Linked DNA regions of Homo sapiens: region 1 is linked to region 2. A link means that fine-mapping ties the variant in region 2 to the expression of a gene that starts in the linked region. Tissue or cell type: hypothalamus. Region 2 holds a variant in brackets; the other region holds the start of a gene. All regions are shown on one strand. Distances are from middle to middle.

Region 1 (2,752 bases), 77 kb after region 2:
GGAGGAAAGGAGGCCCCAGAACCCCTGACAAGGGGCTGCAAAGGAGGAGATGTGAGCGACATGGGGCTGTGGCAGAAGACTTCTGGTGCCACAGGTGACTGGGGTGTCCATCCCTGTGAGCCTGAGCAAGAACAGTGACGCCACCAACAGAAACAAGGGAGTCCCTGCGCCAGCGGAGGGGGTGAGGAGGGGAGACCATGAGTTAAAAATCCCCTAGGAGGCCAGGCGCCGTGGCTCACACCTGTAATCCCAGCACTTTGGGAGGCCAAGGCGATCGGATCACCTGAGGTCAGGAGTTCGAGACCAGCCTGACCAACATGGAGAAACTCCGTCTCTACTAAAAATACAAAATTAGCCAGGCGTGGTGGTGTATGCCTGTAATCCCAGCTACTCGGGAGGCTGAGGCAGGAGAATCACTTGAACCCGGGAGGCGGAGGTTGCAGTGTGCCGAGATCTCGCCATTGCACTCCAGCCTGGGCAACGAGAGAGAAACTGTCTCAAAAAAAAAAAAAAAAAATCCCCTAGGAATACCTAGGGGAGGCAGGGTGGAGGGGTGGAGCTGGTAGTTGGGCAAGCCAGCTAGAGCTCAGGAAGAGCACCCGGAGCGGTTACCCCACGGAGAAGGAGCCTTTGCCCCACCCGCACCGAGAGAGGCAGTTTCTGAGGTTCAAGGTGATGGGTGGAAAGAGAGTCTTTTACTAGGTTCTGTTTGGGGGCTGGGAGTGTAGACACGTGGACAGGGCCTCCTGCCTGACCATCCTGCTAGGTGCTGGCCTCCAGCAGGGGCAGCTGGAGATGAGGGAGGTCAGGGGGACAGAGTGCACGGCACTGGGGACTGGCAAGGGACCCCCACAAACAGAGGAAGAGCTGCAAGTCAAAAAGGCCCTATGTCCGGGGGAAGCCCCCACAGGCCGGAGGTCAAGACTCCAGGGAGCACCTCACAGGTAGGAAAGCCTAGCAAGGGGTCACACGGTCAACAGGCAGCTGGCCCTCCCGAGGGGTGACACTCCCGGGGAGAGGGTGACCCCCACATGCAGAGGAGACGCTGCAGAGTCAGGAAGTGCCAGGAGGTGCTGTGGAGGGGTGATGTTCCCCAAGACTGGGGGGAACCCCGCAGTCAGAAGGCCTCCCCGCCATCAAGTGGCTCCTCCAGCCCCAGAAGCGTGAAACTAGCCATGGGGAGACCACCCAACCACCCTGCACGGCTCCCGCCCATCCCCCGCAGGCCCGGCCGCGCGCCCGACTCTCACCCAGCGCCAGGCCGCAGGCGGCGCCCACAGCCGCCCGGAAGCGGTCCATCTGCGTGTTCTTCTTACTGTCAGGCTCCCACATCACCTGGCACTCCAGGATCTCCTCCCGACCGGGGCGCTCCTCCTTGGACATGGCGGCGGCGGGCGGCCGGGGCTGCGACGAGGGCTGGGGACCAGGGGCCGGGGCTGAGGCGAGGGCCGGGGACCTGGGACCGGAGGAAGCGACGGTCAGGAGCGCCTGGCGGGCTGGGTCAGCGACGGCGGCGGCGGGGAACAAGGGACTGAACGGCCGCCGCCGCCTCCTGCGGGCCGCTTGGCCCAGGCCCCGCCCCGCAGGCCCCGCCTCGAATCCCCGCCCCCTTCCAGGCCCCGCCCTCCCGCCTGTAACCCTCCGCTGAGTGCAGCGCCGCTCAAAGGAGTGCTCGCAGCCGCCGGCTCCAGCGCCCGCGGCCGGGGGGCGTGGGGGTGAGGGGCGCTCACGAGCCTTGGCCCCAGCTCCCCGACCTCACCTGGAGCTGGAGGGCGTTAGGGCAGCCGGAGAAGCCAGGCGTCCGAGCCCGCTGTTTCCTACACGTGTACATCATTCATTCGCTATTTCTTCCTGCAGGTCTTTACTGAGAGCCTGCGGCATTCGGAGGACTTTGGGAGCTTTGCGGATACAGCAGCGAACAAAACAAAATTCTTGTTCTCTGTCAACAGGAGAGGAGGGGTACAGGTGTGAGGAAGACGGGAGACGATTAACAAATAAGTACATCGTGTACATACACAAGATAATGTCATAGTATAATACAATAATATACATAGTATGCCAATGGGTATCAAAATACACATTTGTGAAAGGAAAATAAATCTTGGGGCCCCACTACTAAGCTAAAGGGAAAAGAAAAGCTGGGAACTGCTTAGGGCTAACCTGCCTCCATTCTATTCAAAGTCACCCCTCTGCTGAGTTAAATGCACACCTGATTGCCTCCTTTGCAGAGGCTAATTGAAAACTCAAAAGAATGCAGCCATTTGTCCCTTATCTACCTATGACCTGGAAGGCCCCCTCCCCGCCTTAGCTTTTTTTTTTTTTTTGAGTCTCACTCAGTCGCCCAGGCTGGAGTGCAATGTCCCAATCTCAGCTCACTGTAACCTCTGCTTCCCAGGTTCAAGCGATTCTCCTGCCTCAGCCTCCTGAGTAGCTGGGATTACAGGCACACGCCATCATGCCCAGCTAATTTTTCGTGTTTTTTTTTTTGTTGTTGTTGTTGTTTGTTTTGTTTTTTTGAGACGAAGTTTCGCTCTTGTTACCCAGGCTGGAGTGCAATTGCGAGATCTCGGCACACGGCAACCTCCATCTCCCAGGTTAAAGCAATTCTCCTGCCTCAGCCTCTCGAGTACCTGGGATTACAGGCATGTGCCACCACGCCTGGCTAATTTTGTATTTTTAGTACAGACAGGGTTTTTCCATGTTGGTCAGGCTGGTCTCCAACTCCCGGCCTCAGGTGATCCGCCCGCCTCAG
Region 2 (2,752 bases):
CCTGAGGACAGCAGAGTGCAGCAGACAGGAGCCAGGACTGCTGCACTGTGGAGTTGCTGCCCGGCCCCGGGAGAATGGACTGCCTCCAACTTCCTGTGACGTGAGAGCCATAAACGCTGCTGGGCCAAGCCTGGATCCCGTGGCATGTAGCCACACACAACCCAAGTGACATGCAGCTCTTGCGATGACAAGAAAGGAGCCAGAAACCTGGCTGGCGCTGGGTGTTGGGGGATCTCAGGGTGGAGGGGGCCCAGGGTGCTGGCTTCACACTGAGCAGCACTCCTCGTTGGTCACAAGGGAATGTGGGTAAGTACCAGGGCCCTGGGAAGTGCCCCCAACAATTCGAACCACACAACTCCAGGGCACAGCTGTTGGCGGGCGCACAAGCACCACCAGCCTCACACACGCAGATGCGGTCCCCCCTCCAGAGAAAACACACCAGCACACTGCACACACAGCATGGGTGCATGTGCACACATGTATACATTTATTGCATAAAATTCATCATAGCACTTTCCCCCATATTTTTATAATCCAAAAGGAAAATGATTCAAGAAAGGATTTCATTGTGCTCAGTTTCAAAAAATATAAAAATGGACATCAGATTAGAGATACAAGTTCATACGCTGAACTGAATTGTACATACCAACTGCCTGGCTATGGAAACCCGTGACTTGACTTAGGGGTGCTGATGACATGATCTCGACAAGAACCCCCTAGCAACTCTCAGGTGGAGGCAGCACAGGGATGCGGTTCCTGGTGAGGAGGGTCCTCACTCGGTGACCACACTGCCTGGGCTCACAGCTGGAGGGCTCACCCATGAGGGACACGGGTGGACACCCACTGCTTCACATGCCTAATTCACATTAGAAACATGTAAAGCCATTCAGTCTGTGCAATAAAGAGATCCTGTATGAAATCCACTCATTCCTTGGAGGGAAGCTGGCCCGGAGGCACGCTCTGGTTGACGGGTGACGCACAGTCCTCCAGGGCCTGCATTGCATCCATGACACAGACACACGTGAACACCCAGCCCGCCGGTCCTAGCAGCCAGCTGTGAAAGCTGTGTCAAGTCACGGGGGTTCCTTTCTAACAGCTAAAGCTCAAAGGCATACTGGACCCTGAGGGAAAACAGGAGAGCCTGAGATGGGAAGGGAAGAAAGGGATTTGCACCTTCACAGAGCAAAATGGGACAACGGGACGGGGAGGTTGAAGACAAGACCTTGGCTCAGGAGTGTGTCTGTCTTCAGCACCAGCCAGCCCCACCGTTCCC[G/A]CTGCACTGTGTGTGCAAAGACACACACTCTCACCACAGTGCCACACCTGCGGCCCAGACACTCCCTCCTGGTCTCTGAAGGCCAGAATCCCACTCGTGTGGAAGATCCAGGTACCCACCAGATTTAACAAAACAGAGAAACGATCCCTCCCCAAGCCTACAGAACACTTGGTGCGAGCATCCTTTTACAACAGCTGTAGGTTTCTGTATAATTTCTTGAGCACACAAAAGTTACAGTGCACACGGGTGCGGCTGAGTGACACGCCAGCCAGTCTGACTCAGAAGCCCTGCAGCTCAGGGATGTCCCGGTACAGATCCAGGGTCTCGGGGTTCGAGAAAGCACCTCCTTGCTCCACGGCTTTTCCAGCGATGATCTGTTTGACGGCAACTTCCACTTTCTTGCCGTTGAGCGTATACTGCGAGGGAAAGGTAGAAAAACAGGAACATTTAAACCTGAAGGGGGGAAAATCCGCAGCCCTGGATATATCCAGGCCCCAAAGGCCCAGCTCCACCTGGAGTGCCAAGAGTGAATGGGTCTCGGCTCTAAGATGCCCCTCTTCCCACCAGGTCTGCAAACGTGCACCGAAGTACGGTGAACTGACCACTGTCTCTCTGTTTGGGGGATAAAACCTGTTCTTCTGAAAGGCACTTTCAAGGACTGGTGCTGAAACTCAACTCTAACACTCTCCACACCCCACCCCCGCCCCCTGGCACGGCTGTTGAGAAACTGAGGCTATTTCAAAGTTGCCCAGAGGTCACCATGAGCATGTTCATTTTTCTTTTTTTCTTTTTTTTTCTTTTTTTTTTTTTTGAGACAGAGTCGCACTCTGTCACCCAGGCTGGAGTGCAGTGGTGCAATCTCCGCTTACTGCAAGCTCCCCCTCCCAGGTTCACACCATTCTCCTACCTCAGCCTCCTGAGTAGCTGGGACCATAGGCACCTGCCACCACGCCCAGCTAATTTTTTGTATTTTTAGTAGAGATGGGGTTTCACCAGGATGGTCTCATGTTAGCCAGGATGGTCTTGATCTCCTGACCTCATGATCCACCCATCTTGGCCTCCCAAAGTGCTAGGATCACAGGCGTGAGCCACCGCGCCCAGCCGAGCATGTTCATTTTTCTAACGCTGCACACTCTACTGGGCCCCGTTGGGACCCACGACACGTGTCACATCCAAGCTGGCCTCGAGAGGGCCCTCCAGACACCCCACTGACCCCGGCAGTGCATATTCCAGATGGGAATATAAAAAAGAGTATCTCTCAGGGTTCAGGGTCAGCCTGACCAGGATAAAAATGCAGGCATAGACCATTCCTAAATCCCAGCAGACACCCTGGGCAAGAAAGTTTTCAGGGAAGATGTGGCTCCTGCCACCCCATCTGGGGGATGCTGGGTAAATTCCTGAACCTGAGTTCACTTCCTCGAATGAAAGTAGGGGTGCCAGCACCTAGGCTATAAGGCTGTGAGTCACTGGGTGAATGAA

What was found. PIP is the estimated chance that this variant, and not a neighbour inherited with it, causes the effect.
Region 1: AACS starts here. The variant in region 2 is fine-mapped to the expression of AACS in hypothalamus (GTEx, PIP above 0.99). The same link has a PIP of 0.9 or more in caudate, lung and nucleus accumbens.

Annotation. Positions count from the first base shown.
Region 1 is chr12:125,064,216-125,066,967 of GRCh38, reverse strand. It overlaps AACS (acetoacetyl-CoA synthetase), which reads right to left and starts at 1,533. Exons shown (of 18, transcript NM_023928.5): 1 at 1,251-1,533. The coding sequence starts at 1,383. LOC105370052 (a long non-coding RNA gene) reads left to right here. Exons shown (of 4, transcript XR_001749365.2): 3 at 1,858-1,965. RefSeq lists a silencer at 1,273-1,892.
Region 2 is chr12:125,141,029-125,143,780 of GRCh38, reverse strand. It overlaps AACS (acetoacetyl-CoA synthetase), which reads right to left. Exons shown (of 18, transcript NM_023928.5): 18 at 465-1,689. The coding sequence ends at 1,552. Among named protein-coding and RNA genes, the nearest start is that of TMEM132B, 44 kb to the left of the region's middle. RefSeq lists an enhancer at 100-674. The variant G/A (reference allele first, on the strand shown) is at 1,274.